Regions from separate parts of the Homo sapiens genome. Here all the other regions are linked to region 2. Evidence: fine-mapped expression QTL. A gene starts in region 2. Each other region holds a variant in brackets. All regions are shown on one strand. Distances are between the middles of the regions. Region 1 overlaps SOS2 (SOS Ras/Rho guanine nucleotide exchange factor 2). Region 2 holds the start of VCPKMT (valosin containing protein lysine methyltransferase). Region 3 overlaps SOS2 (SOS Ras/Rho guanine nucleotide exchange factor 2). Region 4 overlaps SOS2 (SOS Ras/Rho guanine nucleotide exchange factor 2).

What was found. PIP is the estimated chance that this variant, and not a neighbour inherited with it, causes the effect.
Region 1: its variant is the best candidate, but not a certain one, in a credible set for the expression of VCPKMT in unexposed skin (GTEx, PIP 0.88).
Region 3: its variant is the best candidate, but not a certain one, in a credible set for the expression of VCPKMT in blood mononuclear cells (TOPMed, PIP 0.54).
Region 4: its variant is the best candidate, but not a certain one, in a credible set for the expression of VCPKMT in whole blood (INTERVAL, PIP 0.55).

Annotation. Positions count from the first base shown.
Region 1 is chr14:50,179,347-50,185,404 of GRCh38, forward strand. It overlaps SOS2 (SOS Ras/Rho guanine nucleotide exchange factor 2), which reads right to left. Exons shown (of 23, transcript NM_006939.4): 6 at 3,117-3,260; 7 at 1,226-1,336. Among named protein-coding and RNA genes, the nearest start is that of SOS2, 49 kb to the right of the region's middle. The variant C/T (reference allele first, on the strand shown) is at 3,024.
Region 2 is chr14:50,113,114-50,119,171 of GRCh38, forward strand. VCPKMT (valosin containing protein lysine methyltransferase) reads right to left here and starts at 3,459. Exons shown (of 6, transcript NM_024558.3): 1 at 3,174-3,459; 2 at 2,956-3,066; 3 at 2,726-2,798; 4 at 1,172-1,291. The coding sequence starts at 3,439. It overlaps SOS2 (SOS Ras/Rho guanine nucleotide exchange factor 2), which reads right to left. Exons shown (of 23, transcript NM_006939.4): 23 at 4,017-5,740. The coding sequence ends at 5,231. RefSeq lists an enhancer at 3,396-3,455.
Region 3 is chr14:50,133,537-50,139,594 of GRCh38, forward strand. It overlaps SOS2 (SOS Ras/Rho guanine nucleotide exchange factor 2), which reads right to left. Exons shown (of 23, transcript NM_006939.4): 18 at 5,076-5,248; 19 at 587-703. Among named protein-coding and RNA genes, the nearest start is that of VCPKMT, 20 kb to the left of the region's middle. RefSeq lists an enhancer at 5,398-6,058. The variant C/G (reference allele first, on the strand shown) is at 3,173.
Region 4 is chr14:50,147,679-50,153,736 of GRCh38, forward strand. It overlaps SOS2 (SOS Ras/Rho guanine nucleotide exchange factor 2), which reads right to left. Exons shown (of 23, transcript NM_006939.4): 13 at 5,392-5,495; 14 at 2,330-2,552. Among named protein-coding and RNA genes, the nearest start is that of VCPKMT, 34 kb to the left of the region's middle. The variant CT/C (reference allele first, on the strand shown) is at 2,886.

The DNA of each region.
Region 1 (6,058 bases), 66 kb after region 2:
CCATATTCAAACGTCAAGGGGTAAAAGCCAGTTTATTTTTTATTTTTATTTTTTTTGAGACTGGGTCTCACTCTGTACCCAAGGCTGGAGTGCAGTGGCGTGATCATGACTCATTGCAGCCTTGACCTCCCAGGCTCAAGCAATTCTCCTGGCATGCCACAGGTGCACGCCACCACACTCGGCTAAGTTTTTATATTTTGTAGAGATGAGGTCTCCCTATTTTGCCCAGGCTGGTCTCAAACACCTGGGTCCAAGCAATCCTCTGACCTTAGCCTCCCAAAGTGCTGGGATTATAGGCAAGAGCCACCACGTCTGGCTGGAAAAGTCAGTTTAGATGTAGAAGTTTTACATATTTAGCCAAGTATTACCTATGCCAACATAACTTTTGTTGTTAGTGTTGAGATAGTAAAAATAAAATTTTATTTGTATCTCTCCACTTATTTTCATTTTATCTAAGTGTATTCCTGAACCAACTAACTTGCATACTCTCCCTCAATACAGTATTTATCTCCTTTAAATTGTAGGCCTCATAGAAAAATCAGTATGAGTACATAGGAGGTTGAGGTTATCTCAACTTTTTAAGATTTCTCCAAATCTTCCTCCTATAGGGAACATAATCCTGAAATCACACTCCAGATTCATCTTTATTTTTTATTTATTTTTCTATTTATTTTTTGAGACAGAGTCTCACTATTCCACCCAAGCTGGAGTGCAGTGGCGCGATCTCGGCTCACTGCAACCTCCGCCTTCCGGGTCAAGTGATTCTCCTGCCTTAGCCTCCTGAGTAGCTGGGATTACAGGAGCTCACCACCACGCCCAGCTAACTTGTGCAATTTTAGTCGAGACAGGGTTTCACCATGTTGGCCAGGCTGGTCTCAAACTCCTGACCTCAAGTGATCCACCTGTCTTGGCCTCCCAAAATGCTGGGATTCTAGGCATGAGTCACTGCACCCAGCCAAATTCATCTTTATACCCCAGATCTAGTATGTGCCAAATTCTTCTGGTCATTCAGTACTCATGATGTTGTACTATAAAAGATTTCTACAATAAGAACAGACAGAACTCCAGAGAGAAAACAGAAGATAATCCAAAACAGGTTTAGAATGAACAAGATTTGAAGGATTACGAGGATTCCAGAATTACAAATATTTGAAGGATAAAATAGTGAGATATTTATTTGCTTTATTAAAAAAAAAAAAAAAAAAAACCTTCAATTTAAGTTTACCTGAAAGTGTAGAGCAACTGCAGGTCTGGCCATCAATTTATTGAAATGTTCATGAAACTCTGGTGAAAGAATGTCCTGTGATAATGTTTCATAAGGATCAAATGCTTGCTCCTATTTTTTTAAAAAGAGAAAAAGCATTAGGTTTAAAAGAATATATTTTCTACCAATATGGTACAGATTATTATCACTTGATCCCAGGAGTTCGAGGTTACAGTGAGCTATGATTGTGCCACTATATTCCAGCTCGAGCAACAGAGTGAAACCCTGTCTCAAAAGAAAAGAAAGAAATGAAAAGAAAAAAGAGAAGAGAAGAAGAAAGATTTCTTTTCCCATTAGACTGGCAAAAATTAATGGGATATCTGCAGAACCGATATGAAAACAAAACAAATTTTGAAAAAAAGAATTAAAAAGAAAAAGAATAAGGTAATACCGAGTTAGTGAAGGGAAAGGGTGAAGAAAGAAGGAAGCTTACATACACTGGAACTTAGCTGGAAGTGAACGTGGCAAAGTGTTTCCAAGTTCTAAAAATGTATCTAGTCTTTAGCACTACAATTCCACTTCCAGGAATATATCCTTAAAAATGATTAGAATATATGACTGGGCGCGGTGGCTCATGCCTATAATCCCAGCACTTTGGGAGGCCGAGGCGGACGGATCATGAGGTCAGGAGTTCGAGGCCAGCCTAGCCAACAGAGAGGAACACCGTCTCTACTAAAAATACAAAAAATTAGCTGGGCGTGGTGGCAGGCGCCTGTAATCCCAGCTACTCAGGAGGCTGAGGCAGGAGAATGGCTTGAACCTGAGAGGCAGAGGTTGCAGTAAGACGAGATCGTGCCATTGCACTCTAGAATGGGTGACAGAGGGAGACTCCATGTCAAAAAAAAAAATGATTAGAATATCAAGGCATAGTGCAAATATGTTTGTTGCAGTGTTGTTTACAATAACAAAAAAAAAAAGGAAAAAACTCTACAACCTATGGATAATAGATAGTTAAAATATGTTATGGTGTCTCCATATAACATCACATTATTTATACTTAAAAATTGTGTTGAAGTATATACATTAACATGGACAATGTTTATGATATACAGAGTAAAAACAGTAAGTTATAAAATAGTGGGATCCTATTTTTGCAAACACACATACATTCGTATGTATGCACAGAAATATATAAGGATAAGTTATCTCTGGGTGTTATAAAATAAAGTGACTTTCATCTAATTTATATATCTATTTTTCTGAATATTTTTACAATGAGCTACATTATTTTTATAGTCATTTAAAAGATAAAATGATTTTTACTTTGGAAAACATTAAAATAATATAAAGCTTCTTTCCAACTTTAAGTTTAAAATCCATAGAAGGTAAAGAGCTATGGTCAATAAAATGTATCTTCCTTCATCTTGAATATACTTACCACTAAAAAAAAAAAAAAAACCTAAATGTTACTACTCTAGTTTATATACTACTCTAGTATATAAACTTTCACTATAAATATTGCCATAAACACACTATAAAGAAAGTGTCACTATATAGGCAATGTGATTTTAGTTTGTTATCAGTTAAATCTTAAATATCTTTTTATAATGGCCAGTGGTATCTTCTAATTTTCATAAAGAATATCTTACAAAAAAATTTTGTTTTTTGGAGACAGGGTCTCACTCTGTCGCCCAGGATGGAGTGCAGTGACACAATCATGGGCTTGATCTCCCAGGCTTCCTACCTCAGCCTCCTGAGTCACTGGGACCACAGATGGGCACTACCATGCCTGGATAATTATTTTACTTTTTTATGGAAA[C/T]GGGGTCTCACTATGTTGCCAAGACTCATCTCTAAGTTTCTTACTACAGCATTTAGGGCTTTAATGAGAATATAAGTAGTTTTGTAAACTTACTTCTGCCAAATCTTCAAAACAGCTGCCAGCTAAGGGATGAGGACTGCTTTCATCAGTCATTTCAACTGTGTCTTCAATCAAACCTAAAAGTTTCACAGTCAATTCATGTATATCTGAAATGTTACTAAAAATCTTTTCGATATCCTGAAAAAAGAGAAGGAAGGTTAAGAAATGTGAGATTGAGAATTCTGCTAAAAAATTACTAAATATAAAGAGCAATATAGGCTACTCGAGGCAGACTGCCTATGGAATAGCCCTGCTCCACAAGAAACAGTACTTTTGCTGCTGCTGTACGCTGCCGCTTCAGCAGAGGTTCCTACCATTGTCATGCCTTTGACTTCTTTCTTAGACAAAGCCAAGAACTGTCCCGAGCTAAGCCCCAACTTTGGGGCTTACCTGCCCTGCACCAAATACATCATTTAATTTATGGGTGGTACTCGTTTTCTACATGTTTTTAAATTTATGGAATAAACTATAGAATTTCTTTAACTAGCATATCTTTTATTGGGAGCATGATTAAAGCTATTATCACTTCTGAACAATTCATATATTATATAAAGCAATATATTTCCATTAAATGTCAACAAGCTATAGCAGAATTTTTGCATTTTGCTCTTGGGAAAACTCATTCTTTGTAAAAATAAAAGTTATTACATGTGAATGCACTCCCATTATAAAAGATTCAAACACAAGACAGAGAGAGTAAAATATGAATGTTTACTTTCATGCCCCCCTTACACCCATGACCCTCAGAGGTAGAAACTATTAATAGTTTAGTATGCATTATTCCAGTATAAAATTCCAACCATTTTCAAACATGTACATCTTGATGTTAATATATTAAAAGATGGAATCATACTGTGTATTCTTTTAACTTGGGTTGGAGAGGTCAACGTACTTTGGAAATAAAGAGACTTGCTTGTACAAAAAAAAAAAGAAACAATATAAGAGTTAAGGGTATATCTTCATTGAATCTCAAATTAATATATTCCAAGACAGTAAAAATCAATCATGAACAGGAAGAGAATTTTAAAAATCTCTTGGATAACAGACAATAAAAATACTACAAAATATAGATTCTAGATAGTTTTTTTAAATCTAAAACCTCCTACTGTGGATGATTCTAAGCTACTTTTTACATAAAGAATTCTGGCATTTGAGTGTTTTAAAACTGGCTGAGATGCTAAAAGACTTGATCAAGGTCTTACAGAGCCCTAGGTTTTACTTATAGCTTAGGCTATATAGTCTTATAGATTAATGGTAAGAGCTGGGATGAGAATGAAGATAACTCCTAATCCTGTTACAATCTGGTTTCACAATTTAGGGCCCATCTCCTGGATCTGAGAAGGAATTACAGATTTCATCCAAGCTCCCGTCTGTGAATTACAGCCATTCACTGCTTAAAGACGGGTATGTTCTGAGAAATGCGCTGTTAGGCGATTTTGTCATTGTGCAAATATCACGGCTAGATGATATACTACAACATTTAGGCCATATAGGTATAGCCTGTTGCTCCTGGGCTACAAACCTGTACAGCATGTTACTGTATGGAATACTGTAGGTAACTGTAACACAATGTTAAGTATTTGTGTATCTAAACATATCTATATAGAGAAAAGGTACAGTAAAAATATAGTATAATCTTACAGGATTACTGTCATATATATGGGTATTTATAGTCTTATCACTGACTAAAACATCATATGTGGCAGATAGCCATATATCTAGGATAAGACAGGTTCAAGCCCTCTGAACACAAACACATCATATGACTGACCATCCCGGTTATGGCCAACTATTATTCACTCTGGCATCTTATAATGGAAACATCACGGGCTTTGGAACCTGACAGACCTGAGCTTGGATCCTGGCTCCACCACATGTGGTATAATATGAAACATATTTTTGGTCTTTGTCCCTGGTTCCTGTCTTAGAGCCCCTAAAACGCTAAGAATATCCTGAGTGATAATAATGTCTTTTGTTATTCATAATGAGTACCTTTGATAAATACTGAGTTTATGCTAATGAGGTTACTTACAGTAGGGCCCCTAGATAACCTCATGATAGGGCCAGTCACCAAAAAGACCAGATGATTAGAGGATTGAAGGGTTACTTGAAACCAAACTGACTCATGAGAAAAAGAAAAAGGATCAGAGGGTTGCAACTTTCAGCCCCACCCACTGACCTCTAAAAAATTGGGGAAAGAGCCTGGGAAACATGGCAAAACCCCATCTCTACAAAAAATGCAAAATTAGTCGGGTGGGGTGGTATGTGCCTGTAGTCCCAGCTACTCAGGAGGCTGAAGCTGGAGGATCTGCTTGAGCCCAGGAAGCAGAGGTTATGGTGAGCCAAGATGGTGCCACTGCACTTAAGCCTGGGCAACAGAGCCAGACCCTGTCTCCAAAAAAAAAAAAAAAAAAAAAAAAAGGGCAGGGGTGAGAGGCTAGAGATCAAGCTCCATAAAAACTCTTGATGAGCTTCCTGGTTGCAGACCTTGTGGAGGTGCTAGGAGGGTGGCTTGCCCAGAGAGGGCTTGGAAACTCTGTGCCCCTATACTTTGCCCTGTCCATCTCTTCATCTGTATCATTTTAAAGTCCTTCATAATAAACTGGTAAACGTGTTTCCCTGATTTCTGTGAGCTGTTCGACCAAATTAATGGAACCCAAGGAGGGGGTCATGGGAACTCCAATTTATAACTGATCAGTTCGGAGCACAGTTCACAACCTGGGACTTTCAATTGGCGCCTGAAGTGTGAGACAGTCGTGTTGGGACTGAGTCCTTAATCTGTGAGATCTGACACTATTTAGAGGTAAATAATGTCAAAATTGAGCTAAATTATAGGACACCTAGTTGGTGTACACAGGAGAATTACTTTGGTGTATGGGGAAAAAATCCTCACATACGTTGTCACAGAAATGTTCTGTGTTGAGTGTGAAGATTAG
Region 2 (6,058 bases):
AAAGGGCAGTGTGCAAACCTTCCAAGATCCTGAAAATGTCCTCTATCTTTATGTTGGTAAGTAGTTACTTGGGTGTATACATATGAAAAATTAAGCTCAGCACTTGACTGATACATATGCATTTTACATATGCTTTACCCCAATAAAAGCTGTTTAACAGTACGAAATTTTCATTATGCATCATTTCAAAAGTTCATGAACATTTTTCATATTCAAGAAAAACATGAAAATAAACAAACATTTTAGTATTTGTTACCTGAGGCAGTCATATACCTGCTTTCTCATTAAACCAAAGTAGTCCTTCCAGCAGACAAAACTGCAGGCCTATATAGATGTACCCTCAAAAGGAGTCACTCACAATGTGATAGATTTGTGCCCATATAAGGGTTTGGGTGATCACTAGGGGAAGAAGAGTGACAGATACATAAAACCCTATATACTATATTTTGCAACTTCCTGTAAGTCTTTTCTAACTATTTCAGACAAAAAGTTTAAAAAACAAAAAAAAAGACCCTAAAAATAGACAGGTATCTAGGTTGGAGGTTTCATAAATATGTAGAGAAAAACACAGAAGTAAAAACTTATCACTTGGCAACATGGGAAAACCCCATCTCTACAAAAAAATACAAAAAGTTAGCCGGGTGTGGTGGTACATGCCTATAGTCCCACTTACTTGGGGGCGGGGGGGGGGGGGGGTGACACTGAGGCAGGAGGATCACTTGAGCCCAGGAGGTTGAGGATGCAGTGAGCCCTGACTGTGCCACTGCACTCCGGCATGGGCTACAGGGTGAAACCCTGTCTCAAAACAAAAACAACTTATCACCTGCACATTTCTATCACGTATTCTCCAAAGGTAATACATACATCATTGAGATGTTCCCCAAAGGCAGCATCATGTTTAATAAACACTGAAAACTGTTCTTAAAAAGGAGTGGCACCCGTATTAACATTCTTCTGTAGCCATAGATCAACTAATTAGAAATGAAATAAAGTATCAGAAAAGATGAAAAAGGGGAGCTTCGTAGAATCATGGGCTGTGAAGATCCTTTCCTCAGCTTCACACAAACAGCATGTTTTCCCCACCCAAAATTACCATAATATACTTGAAGAGTCACATACAGCCCCCCTGAAGGGAAATCACTACAAAGATAATAGAGTACTTAATACTTACCTCAAAATATTTTTTCTCAATTTCTGGATTTTTCCCCATTGTTCGTTGTTCATAACAACATATAATACAAGTTTCAAATCCGCTGATATCTTTTAGAGTTTTCAGCAATGGCTCCAAAGACTATTTAAAAAAGAATATATTTTTTGTTTTTGATTTAAAAATTTTTCTACTCTAAAAGTAGGTTGAGGAGGTACAGGGGTATTTATAGCTCCCCTACAATTTATCCATCTTTGAATCAATCCAACAAAGCACATGTAATTAAAGCTCTAGGCTAGGTGCAGTGGCTCACACCTGTAATATCAACACTTTGGAAGGCAGAGGTGGAAAGATCGCTTGAAAGCAGGAGTTGAAGACCAGCCTGGAGAATACAGCGAGAGACAAACCACCCCCCGCAACACCTTACAAAAAATTTAAAAATTAGCCAGCATGCTGGTGCACACCTATAGTCCCAGCTATTGAGGAGGCTGAATGGGAGGATTACTTGAGCCTCAGGAGCTCGAGGTTACAGTGAGCTATGATCACTCCACTGCACTACAACATGTGTGACAGAGCAAGACCCCTATCTTAAAACAAAAACAAACAAACAAAAACCCCTCTGTAACTAATGATTGGGTAAGCTCCTGTTAACTAAACCATGTACTGATTTTGGTTTCCAGAAAAAGGATTCAGATGACTGCATTTTGGAGTTCTCATGGGAAACAAATGGAATCAACCTTACTCTTAAAAGTTTAATTTTATTTAATCTAATTTGGGATTTAAATAATCAACGATTTCCCTACAAAAGTTAAATCTGACCCTAACTTGGTTCAATGCTAATTATTTTTAAAATAATCGATGCCCACAACACTATACAAACTGATGTTTTTTTTTTTTTTTTTTTTTTTTGAGACAGAGTTTTGCTCTTGTTGCCCAGGCTGGAATGCAATGGCATGATTTCGGCTCACTGCAACCTCCGCCTCCCAGGTTCAAGCGATTCTCCTGCCTCAGACTCCCAAATAGCTAGGATTACAGACATGCACCACCACGCCTGGCTAATTTTGTATTTTTAGTAGAGACAGGGTTTTGCCATGTAGGTCAGGCTGGTCTCGAACTCCCGACCTCAGGTGAGCCACCTGCCTTGACCTCCCAAGTGTTGGGATTACAGGCGTGAGCCACCGCGCCCGGCCCAAACTGGTATTTAAAGAAAAGAACAATGAATTATTTATAACTTAATTCTCAATGTCATGGTTAACATGTTCCGTGGGAACAACCAAGGGAAAAAGAGAGGATTTTGGCTTTTCATAACATCCAATTGGCAAAATCCTTTAAAATTTTTACAGAAGCCTCTAGTAAAATGCATATAACACTTTTCTCAACATGCTTCACCAGGTCGGTATGATAATGATGAGCGTATATACATATGGTCCCTGGTGACTTTTATCTTCTCTTTACTGCATCAACTATAAGGCAAATCCCGGATTCAAAGATGTTAAAATGTGAAGAAACGTGTGCTTTAGAATTCATGGAATAAGGTTCATCTTCTAAGTGAAGAGACTTCGCTCACTGGATACTTACCTCTTCATAGTATATGCAGTCGGCCATCAGTATGAAGTCGGGTGGAGAAGGAAAGCCTTCTATTTCTTCCCCCCTTAAAAATGCCAAACAAATATTTCAATTGTTTTAATAATTCAAAATACTCTTGTTTTATAAAGAACCGGAAAGTCCCCTTCCATCCTTTTAATGAAACGCAATTCAAAACAAACTACAAATCAATATCTTAAAACAAGCTGAAAGGCCATACAAACCATTTCAGTACCTTGGCTTGAACAGAACCAGTGACAAGATGCTTGTTCATATTAATATTCATCTTCAGCAAGTCTTGCAATTCCTCAAGATCGGTGACTACAACATCAGCCCTATAAAATAACGTCGACTGAGGTGTAGGCACAGGGGGGAAAGCCTGTAATCCGGATTTCCCCAGCAAGAAGGCGCCCCCACATCCCGCCCGCCCGCCAGCTCTTACCCGAGGGTAGCAGCCATGAGCCCCACGGCCCCGGTGCCCGAACCCAGCTCCAGCACCGACCGCCGGCTCAGCGCGTGGGCCCCGTCGCCAGAAAACTCGGGCGTTTCCAGGTATTTAGAAAGGACAATGGCAGCGTCCCACACAACGCAACCCACGCCACCGGAGCTATACTGCTGTAGTCGTAGCACTGTACCATCCCGCTTCTCCAAAACTCGCACAAAGCTCCGCAGTGGGTCCTCCAGCGAGGACTCCAGCGTATCCGCCATTGCGCCCGGCAACAGAAAGCGGCGCGCGCAGGGACGTCACATCAACGCGCACCGCCCCGCCCTGCGGCTCCGCCCCCTGCCCGCCGCTGAGTTGGCGACGCAGCGCGCGCGAGTTAACAAAGCCCGGAAGGCAGCGTTACCTGGGCGGGGCCGAGCGTGGGGCCCCTGCTTACCCGACGCGCTTGGCAGCCTCCCTCTACCCTAAATCACACGTTTGGCTTAACGAAGAGGCCGTTTAAATCACTTTCCCAGACAAAACTATTATAATCTGCTCTTTAAAAAACAAAGCCAACCTCAGAGTTTACCAAGTTGGACACTTGATTTACATAGTAGTTACAAGGCTTAAATGCAATCAGCTTCCAAGATCCTACCAAAGATGGCTATAATCTTACAATCTTCCTTTTCAAGTTCCTAGTATGCTCCTAGTTTTTTGTATGAATTCATAAAAGTGGTTGCTAGAAGCCTGCAGCTCACATTTAACAGTGAAGAAAAAATTGTGTGTGTGTGTGTGTGTGTCTATAGGACTCAACAATCTCCCCCTTTGTTCCTTATAATGAAAACACATATTTTAAAAGTCTTTTAAAAATTAAGACTGGGGTGATTTATTAATCTTGTTAAGAACTCTGATACAAAGCACAGTAAAAGGCCACAAACCAGTAAATAAACAACGTGGCTTTTGGCTACTTTACAACTGCTGCTACAGCACTATCAGCAAAACACTCTATCACTTTGAACGAAGGCATCCAAATGGCAAATAAAAGCTTTACTCACTTATCTGATTAAAATGTTTAATAAAGCTTTAAGTATTTGCTGGTTTAAATATTACCAATCTAAAAAATATATTTAAAAAAAATTTCAGTTAACACGAGATTTATAGAGAAAGTTACTAGGTCTTGAAGGCAAGGCAGTTGGTTCCTATGCCATAGAATTTTTTTTGAATTTATGAATTAGTAAAGTAGCAGATTGTATTATAGGCCTCAAGTCACTTAAATTTATATAGGTTATTAGCAGTATCTTTAAATATACAATATAAACAAAACTGTACATACATGGCATATTAACTGTTTTCCATAACAATAGGCAATTCATTAGCTAAAGACGTCATAGTCTGCAAAAACAAAAGGCACATCTGAATGAGATACATGCCCTTTTTCCCTCCATCATTGGGTTATGTAGTCTTTGTTTACATTTTGACAAAATAATAAACACTTACAGTGCCATTCTATTATTTTCATCCTACTTTTCATTTTTGTCTTCAGCAGCAAATACCGGCATTTAAGACATGGCATTAAAGAGTTTAAGAACAGTTGGTGTTATTCACAATTCTCCTAGATGTAAAAACTAGAAGTAAAAACTAGAAGATGGTCAAAGAGGTTTAAAAATCAGTAACACCATATACCCCTCCCATATTTGTGTAAATTCACTGCCTTAAAAAGGCATCTATTACTCAAATTTGAAAAATTTCACAAAAGCACTATCCCTTTTCAGTGCAATCATGTCACTTTAAACCATATTTTTGCAGAGTTTACAGTGCAAATATAAATTCTTTATACTGGCCTTTTGGCAGCACTGAGGATCCAAGACAAGGCAATGCTACTGATCACCTGAGGATAATGGTGAAGGACTTTTGTATTTTTATTTTTCCAATTCTTAAAAGCTTATTTGATCAGTAGCATTTTTGTAAGAGCATTATTTGTAAAAAGTACTAAAATACTATGTCTTTTTTTGAATAAATTAAAAAAAAAACTTTACAAATACCATTCCAGTGTCAATGACTACATATGGCTAAGGTCATTGGGGAGTTTCTGCATTTTCTAGCAAAGGCAGTCTGTACAATGGGGGGTGCGAAAGCTCCCGTTTGTAAGTCTTTGGTGGCAGTTTTGGCAGATGAGGGCTTGAATTCTGCCTTGGTGGAACAGGGGGAGCTGGAGGATGAGCAAGATTATTCTGACTAGAACTGAGCACATAGCATCGACGCGGTACCCTTGGAGAGGGTGTGCTAGGAGGAGTGCTTGGCGAATTTGGACACGTACTAATGTCTCTGAGCCAGTCTGAATCTCTGTGAAGATGCCCCAGTGGAGGTGGCTGAAGATTAAATGGACAGTTTATAAAGTGTTCTGGAGGCCGAAGGGGAACTGGTGGAGGGGTATCAGGAAGAGGATCTCTTGGTGGTGGCGGAGGTGGACTATGCAGAGGCCCATCAAATGCACCAGTAGGAACAGGAACTCTGGGTTTTACCTTTGGAGGAGGAGGCTGTCTCGGTGGAATAGCAGGAGGATCATCATCAGATTTCATATTTCCCTCAAAAAAAAAAGTAATTAAATTATACCTCTATTCTGAAAAATTAAAAAAAAAAATTTTTAAGTCTGAAAAATTCTTACTTGTCAAGTTAAATTCAGAGGCTCAAAATAAACTAATCTGGGTTAATTATCAGATTATGAGTACTCCTAGATTAATTCAGGGCTGGGTTTAATATTTTTATATATGAGATGTTTTAATTTAAGTCTTAGGTCCTAACTCTTTATCTTGCTTTGTGTATACATTTCAGAAATTTATGTATTTTAATTATAATAGTAGGTAAGTGACAATAATTTATTGCTTTATAGACATGAAAGGACA
Region 3 (6,058 bases), 20 kb after region 2:
ATTGTGAAGATGAGATAGCATGAAACTACCTGACTTCCTGCTTCACCTAAAGTTGGTTTGTGTTTTTACTTCCTTCTATATCTTGCTTCACTTTTAGCTACTTAGAGTTCATCTTCTACTACTTCTGTTGCCACTGCAAACTCCTGCAGTAACTGGAAATTGTAGCATCAAATTCTAGTGACAGAGATGGGTTCCAGAGGCAACTATGGACCATGGAGCCCTAATGGCAGAAGTCATATCAAGTCACAAGAACCAAAATACATTTGCTTACTCCTTCCCAGGTCTTTTCTTTTTTTTTCTGTTCCATTCAGCTACCTATTAAGTTCTCACTTTCTCACACCTTTTTGTATTATTCTAGGAGGGATCAAAAGTAGACACATAAATAAGTAGTACCAAGATAAGGCATAAACCAGATTTTATCAAAAGGCTGACATTTCCCCCCCCAGTTTTAGAAATAGTATATTACTGCAAACAAAACACCTAGGAACAGCCATTCAATTACATTTTTAAGATAACAGGTTGTTAAACATTGAAAATAATATTTTAAAAAACAGAACACTTGTTCCCGAAATTATAAAAGACTTACAAATCGAGGTGGCTGTTTGCAGTTTCGAGGTTCAATTTCTAGTGACTTGTTGAACAAATAATCTGTAAACTCTTTTTCAGATGCACTTCCCATGGGGTTAAGGTTTTCAAAGAATCTCTGGAATTAAACAAATAACACAAGTGCATATATAGTAAGTATATATTTTAGATCTTATTAAAATAAGATCTCATTAAAATTTTTTGCTGAAAATTACTTATTTAATGCTAAAAAATAACACATTAAGAGCCCACAATATGTGAAAAGTTCACAAGTGTTGCTTATTCCAATCTCTTTACTTCTGAATAAGATTATATAATTTCTGTGGAAGTTATATTCTAGTCTTAAAGTTCTATTAAGAATATGAGTTTTCATTTATTATCATTTTAATGGCTCAGCAGTAGCACTACTTATTCCTTAGGAAACTTTACTCCTACTCATTGTAACAAATGATCATCACTAGTAAGCTACCAAAAGTGTTTAGAACAAAGCTATGGTTATAATCCACAATGAAGTTTTGATAATCAGAAAAAAAGTGGAGATAAATTAGATTAAGGTCTGTTAATCCAATTTATAGATCATTCTTGATCATTTATAATTACTCTGGAAATTCCTTTTACTTTAAAAGTAGTCATTTAAATTACTTTAAAAGTAATGTCAAGAATGATTATAGGCCGAGCACGGTGGCTCACGCCTGTAATCCCACCACTTTGGGAGGCTGAGGTGGGTGGATCACCTGAGGTCGGGAGTTTGAGACCAGCCTGACCAACATGAAGAAACCCCATCTCTACTAAAAATACAAAATTAGCTGGGCGTGGTGGCGCATGCCTGTAATCCCAGCTACTCAGGAGGCTGAGACAGGAGAATCAATTGAACCTGGCAGGCGGAGGTTGAGGTGAACCGAGATCACACCATTGCACTCCAGCCTGGGCAACAAGAGCGAGACTGTCTCAAAAAAAAAAAAAAAAAAAAAGAAAGAAAGAAAGAAAGAAAGAAAGAATGATTATAAAGTTAAACCTATCTGTGCTAACTTCTAGTATAAAAAATGTTTTTATCTGAGCCAAGCCATGATGGCTCACACCTGTAATCCTAGCAGTTTGGGAGGCTGAGGCCGGGGGACTGCTTAAGCCCAGGAATTTGACACCAGCCAGGGCAATATGGTGAGACCTCTCCTCTTAAAAAAAGCCTAATAAATAAAATGTTTAAAATTTTTGTCTTTATCAAAAAATATTTTAAGCTTAAATTTAAGTTTTAACGTAGAAAATTCAGGTGATTTAGCACTGCCAAAAAAAGAGAAAAAAAGAAAAAGAAACAGTAATCTTACAAACCAGAAATATCATTGTTTACATTTAAATATTAGACTATCTTCCAATGATTTTACTGTGCATGTAAATATATGCATGTATATATGTATTTATATATAATTATTAATAATTTATATATATATTTTCCTGAAAAACTGGGATATCAATTTTAATCTTTCTGAAGTTTATATTCAATTAACTTTTTTCAATGTGGTTTGCTTTTTTTTTTTTTTTTTTTTTTGAGATGGAGTCTCACTCAGCCTTCCAAAGTGCTGGGATTACAGGTATGAGCCACCTCACCCAGCCAGTTTGCTTATTTTACAAAATACAAATTTTAACTCTATAGTATTTCATCAGATGGATATTTCAGAATGTAATAATCTCCATATAGCTAGTTATCCATATAGGTACTTTCTAATTTTTTGCTATTATAATAATTATTTTTATTAACTCCTATATATAAATTTTTCTGTACATTTTTTATGATTTCCTTAGAAAAATTCCTTAGCAGCAAATTACTGGATTTAGCTTTATTTAATTTTGAAGTGGTTTAGAAGCATATATAAAAATGGTACTAGGTTTTAGCTTTAGCAGTAGGCAAAATGAGCTTTAAAATTTCTAGTATAAAATTCTTCCCATTTTTAAGGCATTCTGCCAATTTCAAGAAAATTGTATTACTCTTTTAACAATACTGAAACAATGTGTTCTTATGTTCAGGTTAGCTAAATTAAATATTAGCCACTAGTAATTAAAGGCTTTCAGAAAGCTATAACAGCAGTATTCTTGATTTCCTCATCCTTTGCTCTATTTTAAATACTATTTATTTAAGTATGATTTGAAAAGTGAATAGCTACTTTGTCTACATTTTAAATTTATTTTGTTTGACTCAATCATATAGAAGACACTTCCTCCCAAAAATGCTTTAAATGGTGGTAGGAACCCTAGACCACACCACAAACACCAATTAGCAGGTATGGTTCTGAGATATAAATACTAAAAGTACTATTTCAAGCATACCGAATTAAAGTGTAACATTATTCCTGTGGGGACCATATTTCCTTAGCTCTCCGAAGCCCCACATCACAGAGGGCGGGTTCAATGGTGAGAGGGGATGAAATAGGTCACCATCAGTAGGTTACCACCTTTATTTTTTTTAAGAGCAAGTATCTTTTTTTTTTTTTTTTGAGATGCAGTCTCGCTCTGTCACCTAGGCTAGAGTGCAGTGGCTCTATCTCAGTTCTCTGCAACATTTGCCTTCTGGGTCCAAGCGATCCTCCCACCTCAG[C/G]CTCCTGAGTAGCTGGGATTACAAGCACGTGCCACCACACCCAGCGAATTTTTGTATTTTTAGTGGAGACAGAGTTTCACCACGTTGGCCAGGCTGGTCTTGAACTCCTGACCTCAGGTGATCCACCCACCTCAGCCTCTCAAAGTGCTGGATTTACAGGCATTAGCCACTGTGCCCGACCTATCATTTTTATAAATGGTATGCTTTAGGTGGTCTTTTTCTTAGGACTTTAGGGTACTTTGTTTTGAACCGGGAACAAAGAAGTTTCTATCTCATAATTTAGGAGGGTGGAAGTAATGGTGGATATTTTCACTCAATATGCCCAATTTGCATGCAGATTATGTCTAAAAAGTTTAGCGCAGTTTTTAATATGACACGTAAACTTATTCTGGTTGATAGTTATAATATGTTCCCAAGTTCAAGTATAATATAATAACATTCATTTAGCATAAACATAATATCATAGTTTAATTTAGAAGGTTGTTTCATATTTTATAGTACTATAGTATCAATATTACACACTATTGCTCAAAATAGAACATCAATCGACAGGATGTTAGAAAAATCATCTTCTGCCAGGCATACATATACCACTTTGCTGACCCTTTTCCTATTTAAACACACTGTTCTTATGAATTATATAACGTTATTTTGCTACATGTAACATTATCTAAAATGGCTATCAAATCTAGAAATGAATTTTCTTTTTACTGCATGGACATCATTCTACTTTGTCATTCACTTTTTATGGTGTAGCTTGAACCAACTACACAAAGAAGCAATACTTTCAAAAGAAAGTACTTAGTAACAATATTAACAACTGCAGATAGTGTAGAATGTCTAATGTTTAACATGCTATCTACTGATTAATTTTTTTCTATTATTTTCATAGCAAGACAAATAATTATGATATTTCTTACAGGTCACACAAGATCTAAAATTTTTTTTTAATTTTTAAAATTTTTAATTTTCATGGGTACATAATAGGTGTATATATTTGTAGGGTATAAGAGATGTTTTGATACAGGCATGTAATGTAGAATAATCCCATCATGGAGAGTGGGGTATCCATTCCCTCAAGCATTTATCCTTTGTATTATGAATAATCCAATTATACTCTTATAGTTAATATTTTTTATTTTATTTTTTGAGACGGAGTCTCCCTCTGTCACCCAGGCTGGAAGGCAGTGGCATGATCTCGGCTCACTGCAGCCTCCACCTCCTGGGTTCAAATGATTCTCCTGCTTCAGTCTCCCAAGTAGCTGGGATTACAGGCACCCGCCACCATGCCCGGCTAATTTTTTGTATTTTTAGTAGAGACAGGGTTTCACCATGTTGGTCAGGCTGGTCTCAAATTCTTGACCTCAAGTGGTCCTCCCGCCTCAGCCTCCCAAAGTGCTGTGATTACAGGCGTGAGCCACCATGCCCAGCCGATACTTATAGTTATTACTACTATTATTATTTTGAGACAGAAGTCTTACTGTGTCACCCAGGCTGGAGTGCAGTGGCGCTATCTCGGCTCACTGCAACCTACCCCTCCTAGGCTCAAGTGATTCTCCCACCTCAGACTCCTGAGTAGCTGGGACTGCAGGCACCCAGCACCATGCCCAGCTAATTTTTTTTTATATTTTTAGTAGAGACGGGGTTTCGCCATGCTGCCCAGGCTGGTCTCCAACTCCTGATCTCAAGCGATCCGCCCGCCTTGGCCTCCCAAAGTGCTGGGATTACAGGCGTGAGCCACAGTGCCTGGCCTCTTACAGTTACTTTTAAATCTGCAATTAAATTATTATGGACTGTAGTCACCCTGTTGTGCGATCCAATAGTATGTCTTATTCATTCTATTTTTTTTTTTTGGTACCCATTAACACGTTCTCTTCTAAAGATATGCAAAGAAAATATTTACCCTCATATCTGGTTCTATCCGTAAACAGTAAGGCTGATTCTGATACTGCTGAATTTCTCCAGTAATTTCAGCTACTTTCCTCCTCTTACTGAAATTGATTAAATCTTTCCCTTTCTTTTTTAAAAAATCATTATTCCCTTCTTCGGTCTTCAGAATATTTGTTAAATATATTCCTAGTAAAAAAAAAAAAAGAATTTAAAGAAAAGTTATTTTAAATTTTGTTATTTAATCAATTATTTGGGAAAACAACTGATCTAGTAAAGTTGAAAGACATCCTATACTATTCAGCAACTCTACTACTAAAATGTTAAGTCTCTGATAAACAATCATTAACTCTCCATTAAGCATTTTTTAAAGAGAAAGAATTTAAAATAAAAAGAAAATAAAAGCTACTGGCTTGTACAAAAATAAAGGCTGCTAATCTAAGAAATGGCAAATTAAGCTTTTCTAAACTCTAATTTCACCAAGTGCAAATTGTGTTAAATCTATTCTGACCAAATATTTTAATATTTGATTATAAATATTTAATGCCAAGTATCTTAGGTGATTATTAATAAATTAATTTTAAGCCAATTTTGGTTAATAAGTCTATAGGCTTATAAACTAATTCTGTTTTTTCAGAGACTGTAATTTAGATAGAAAAATAATTACTTCTCATTCATGAACAATAAAAAAGTTTTTAGTCCCTTTTTCATGCGTAATTGCTGATTCATTTAAATTGGTGGTTCTCAGCTGGGGACAATTTAGTCCCCCAGGGGATATTTAGGAATGTCTAGAGACATTTTTGGTTACCACAACTCCAGGGTGCTATTGGAGTGTAATGAATAGAGGCCAGGATGCTGCTACAGATCCTATTACGCACACGACAGCCCATCACAACAAAGAATTATTTGGCCCAAAATACCAAAATTGTTGAAGTTGACAAAACTTGATTTAAATCATTCAATTTCAATCATACACAACAATATTTTAATTCTAAATTT
Region 4 (6,058 bases), 35 kb after region 2:
ACAAAGGATTTCAATTTTATCTAAAATGTTTTTGTTGTTCATGAATATTCATTATATTATTTCCTATATTTTTTGAATGCCTGAGTATTTAATTAAAATTCAGACAGAAGAGCAGATTAAAACATTGTATACAGTGAGTCAGAATACACAATTTAAAAATTGGCCAAGTACAGTGGCTCACACCTGTAATCCCAGCACCTGGGAGGCCAAGGCAGGAGGACTGCCTGAGGCCAGGAGTTCAAGGCCAGCCTGGGCAACACAGTGAGACCCTATCTCTTTTTTTTCTTTTTAATTGACTGGTGGCATTGCCATCAATGGCCTACAGACTTGGTTATTCATTAAAAAAATATTTTTTAATCAGTAGATTTGTGTATAAATAAGTACTTGCTAACAGTTTCTGAAATGTTTTCTTAAAGTGGCTCTATTATTTCACCAGAAATTTAGTTTACAAAGCTGGGTGCAGTGGCTCATGCCTGTAATCCCAGCACTTTGGGAGGCTGAGGTGGGTGGATCACTGGAGGTAAGGAGTTCGTGACCACTGTGGCCAACATGGTGAAACCCCATCTCTACTAAAAATATAAAAAAGCCGGGCATGGTGGCACACACCTGTAATCCCAGCTACTCGGGAGGTTGAGGCATGAGAATCACTTGAACTTGGGAGGCACAGGTTGCAGTGAGCCGAGATTGCACAACTGCACTCCAGCCTGGGTGACAGAGCAAGACACCATCTCAAAAAAAAAAAAAAAAAAAAATTTAGTTTACAAATGAAGTCAGTATTAGGTATTTTTCTATGTCCTGAAAGTAGGTCCACATGAAGTGAAGTGCTTTTTTTCTGATGTCCATTCATGTAAAACAATTACATTGTGAGAAAAAACATGATGCAGTACTATTTGCTTTTTTTACCTCAAGTAACAAGTCCCTTCATTTCTACGTATCACAAATCCCACAACATAAACAAAGCTACCTGGATTCTAAATTACTTAAAATATAACATAACATTTTGAGTCAGATGTTGACAACTTCTGGTGGGTGCGCTAAAAGTCTGGTTCTGAATGGCATGGCCAGTGCAAACTAGGCAAATTCTAAAGAACATAAAGTAAACATAATGTAGTAAAGGTACCTTACTATATTACCTATTAGCACTAAATTTTATATATTCTTGCTTTTCCCTGTGTAATCTTTATTTAAAAATTGGCTGCTAATCAGGATAACTCCATGAAAATATTTTTATTTTAGAGATAGGGTCTCACTCTGTCACTCAAGCTGGAGTGCAGTGGCACAATCTTGGCTCACTGCAGCCTCGACCTTAAGTGACCTTCCCACCTCAGCCTCCTGGGCAACTGGGACTACAGGGGCACTACAGGCACGAGCCACCATGCCTGGCTATTTTTTGTAGTTTTTGTATGACGGAGTTTGCCATGTTGCTCAGGCTGGTCTTGAACTCCTGGTCTCAAGCGATCTGCCCACCTTGGCCTCCTAAGTGCTGGGATTACAGGCATGAGCCATCATACCCAGCCAAGCACATTTATATTTTAAATTGAGGCTTCTATACTACTCACAATAGCTATGATATGGAATCAACAGATTAATGAATAAAGAAAATGTGGTATATATACACAGTGGAACACTATTCGGCCATAAAAAAAGAATGAAAGCCTGTCGTTCAAGGCAACATGGATGAGCCCGGAGGACCTTATGTTAAGCAAAATAAATCAGACACAGAAAGAAAAATATAACATGTTCCCACTCATATATGAAAACTAAAAAAAAAATGAACTCATGGAAGTAGAGAGTAGAACTGCAGGTATTAGTGGCTGGGAAGGATTGGGAGGAGGGGAAAACAGAGAGGTTGGTGTAGAAAAAGTTTTTGATGGAATGATAATGATAGTGACATTTTTCGACAGAGAGCTGTTACATGCAAGGCCTGTACCCTTCGCAACAGCCTGAGCTGTAAATGAGAAAAGAAAACCCATCTCACACAATATTCTATTCACTTAGCTGCTAAGGGCCTAGCATCCATACTAACTGACTTGACTGACTGACCTCAAACTAAACCAAGGTGAGAAGGTATTAGGAGTTGAAGAGGGGTGGTGGACTTGAAAATCTTCCTGCCATTCCTCTTGTAATGGATTGCTAGTCCCCAGTCTAGACATAAGACTTTTACTTGCAGGGCAGACTAGTTAAAAACTGTGCTATGACCTTTCCTCTAAGCCCATGAGAGTAGATGAGGTATTTTTAAGCACTCATGAATAATGTGCAAAATGTTTTGAAAATAGGTAATGTTCAAGATTCTTAAAAATAAAGCAAGACATTAACATTAATTGTCTACCTGTAAAGATCAGACTCCAAAAGTGTCAGCTGACGTGCAATTTCTATTGGATGAAGTGTCATGAGATCAAATGTTTCAAACTGTCCTGGTTTGCTGATATGCCATTCAATTGGTGGAGGTGGACTTTCAAAGGTAATATTATGGCTTACTCCGTTTGCCTGAGCTTGCTTCTTCCTCCTGATGATCTTAGCAATTGACTCTACCCATTTTTTCATAGCTTTCCCTGGAAAAAGAACACATAAAGAAAAATGTCTTTTACTTGACAGACATGACTGCAAATCTTCATTTAATCCTTAACTTTCACCCAGCCTCAACAGTTACCAACTCATGGCCAATTTTTATTTTCTCTAACCCTACTCATGCCATCCCGTCACTTCCTAGGTTATTCTGAAACAAATCCGAGACATCGTATTTCATTCATATTTAAGCACCTTTAAAACACTCTTTAAAGTAATAACCACAACACCATTATCACACATAAAACTGACAACTTCTTAATACATTGTTATCTTGAAGTATTTTGTCACTGTTCACATTTCTCTCTCTGATTATTTTC[CT/C]TTTTTTTTTTTTTTGAGACAGGGTCTTGCTCTGTGGCCCAGGTTGGAGTGCAGTGGCGCAATCTCAACTTATTGCAACTTCCATGTTGCGGGCTCAAGTGATCCTCCCACCTCAGCCTCCCAAGTAGCTGGGACTGCACATATCACCACGCCTGGCTAATTTTTGTATTTTTTTTGAAATGGAGTCCCACTTTGTCACCCAGGCTGGAGAATAATGGCGTGATCTCGGCTCACTGCAACCTCCACCTCCCGGGTTCAAGCGATTCTCCTGCCTCAGCCTCCTGAGTAGCTAGGATTATAGGTGCACACTACCATGCTTGGCTAATTTTGTTGTATTTTTAGTACAGACAGGGTTTCACCATGTTGGCCAGGCTGGTCTCGAACTCCTGACCTCGTGATCTGCCTGCCTTGGCCTCTCAAAGTGCTGGGATTACAGGCGTGAGCCACCGCGCCTGGCCTAATTTTTGTATTTTTAGTAGAAATAGGGTTTATCCATGTTGCCCAAGCTGGTCTTGAACTCCTGGGCTCAAGTGATCTGCCTGCCTTGGCCTCCCAAAGTGTTGGGATTACAGGCATGAGCCACTGTGCCTGGCCATATTTTCTTATATTTAGTTTGAAAAGGGATCTGAACAAGATTGCACATATTGCACTGAGTCAATGTGTCTCAAGTCTCCTTTAATCTACAGGTTACTGCTTTATTGCATATTTTTGCTTGCACTTTGTGGAAGAAATTGTCATTTGCCATGTTTTTCTGTCCTCTATATTTTCTGTAAAGCAGAGATATAGTGACTTGGTCTGATTCAGGATTAATTTTATGACACAAATACTTGCCAAGAATACTTCTAACAGGAGGCATATAATGTCTAGTTAACTTTTTGTGATAGTACCCATCCAGTCATGATAATTCCCTAGGTTTATTATTTTACTAGGACCTGAGAAATGTGATATTCTACCATTCCTTCTTCACTTACTAGCTGAAATACTTCCACAAAAATAAACTTTTCCTCATGAACTATTTGGTTATTCTGAAGTATAACTAGTATAGAAAAGAACTTTGGACATTAACATAACCATTTACTTAATTTATTCTAATGTGTGTGTGTATTTTAGAAGCTTCTTAGATTGTGTCTAATCCAGTATTCTCATTTAGAATATAAATTTTTGTTTTTTGTTTATTTTGAGACAGGGTCTCACTCTGCCCAGGCTTGTGTGCAGTGTTGCAATTTCGGGTCACTGCAGCCTCGAGCTCTGGGCTTAAAAGTGATCGCTTCACCTCAGCCTCCCGAGTAGCTGGGACTACAGGCACATGCCACCATGCTTGGCTAATTTTCATATTTTTTGTAGAGACTGGGTTTTGCCATTTTGCCCAGACTGGTCTCAAACTTCTGGGCTCAAGCAATCAGCCCGCCTCTGCCTCCCAAAGTGCTGGGATATTCTAGGTGTGAGCCATTGCACTGGCCTAGAATACAACTTGAAAATGTAGTATTATGACAATTTCAAGGCACACATAAAAATGTATCATAAACATCTCAAAGTAGAAACAAAGGAATAACATTCTTAACTTTAAATAATATTCCCCTTAAAGAACAAGTAGAACACGAAATAAGTTACACTTGTTATAGTATTTGTAATGCCCTATAATGTCAGATAAAACATAAATGTTCTTGATTCAATAATATACATTTGATGACACATTTGTTTAAATGTTCATGGCCTAGGGTTTCATTTCTTGGGCTATGATTCTGAAACTTAAAATAGAAAACTCCTCTCTTTCAGATTTCAGAAATATACCAAAAACATTTCCAGAAGATGTAAATATTATAAGAAAGCTGTTAATCATTAAAAGAATAAGATTAAAGAAAGAAAACATAAAATTACACATATTTTTATTCAGTTGAAGAAATGGCAACCTTGCAATGAGATAAAATTAAATAGCTTAAATTTATTAAAAAGAACTTTCGACTTCTTTAAAAGAAATATTCTCCTCAAAAACTTGAAAAGGCAAAGTTCTGAGACCTCAGATGATTGGTCTAAACATATGTGAGTTTCTTGCTGTCTATAAAAAACATTCCAAATGTTATTTCAGCTTTTTAAAAATGAAAAATGCTGGCCAGGCATGGTGGCTCATGCCTGTAATCCCAGCACTTTGGGAAGCTGAGGCAGGTGGATCATCTGAGGTCAGGAGTTCAAGACACCAGGCTGGTCTTGTGGTGAATGTGGTGAAATACCATCTCTACTAAAAATACAAAAATTAGCCAGGCGTGATGTCATGTGCCTGTAGTCCCAGCTACTTGGGAGGCTGAGGCAGAAGAATCACTTGAACCTGGGAGGCGGAGGTTGCAGTGAGCTGAGATGGCACCACTGCACTCCAGCCTGGACAACAAAGCAAAGCTCTGTTTCAAAAAAAAAAAAGAGAGAGAAATGTTTTAGTTTCTTAAAGTCACACAAATTTGAACATAAACTCATGTTCAATATAAGATTCAATCAAACCTTTATATAATATACCTCTTACACTTGAAATGAAGGATTCTAGTCTTTCAAGCAATTCCAAGTCTCTTTCAAAGTCATAAAAATGATGTTCAACCCAATGCCGAAATACATTTAAGATCCTGATAAAATGGAAAGAAACACATTTTAGTGAAACATAAGTGTTCAATTACACTTCTTCCTTCTCTAATGCCACGATAATAGCTTTACATACAAGGGTCAACATAATACTCAAAGACTCTCTAATCTGTATTTAATTAATACTTTAAATGCTTCAATGACAAGAGGAGAGTAGGTCTCCAAACGGTGTATTATTTATTAATAAAATGTATACTTTTAAAATATTTATAAGCATAAAAATAGTGGTTTCTGTGCTTCCCATTTATGTTAAGGAAAAGTACCCTTTATTCATATGTAGAAAACTTATGCTCTATATTACAAAAGCTATTTTAAGTTCATAAAAAGCATTTTTAAGATTTAAATTTTGGTACTTTTTCACTTAAAATGGAAAACCAACTAAGATGTACTGTATCTGGTTCTAAATGCAAGTGCTATCATCAAATTTCTTTCTTTTTTTTGAGATGGAATTTTGCTCTTGTTGCCCAGGCTGGAGTGCAATGGTGCGATCTCAGCTCACTACAACCTCCAACTCCCAGGTTCAAGTGACTCTCCTACTTCAGCCTCC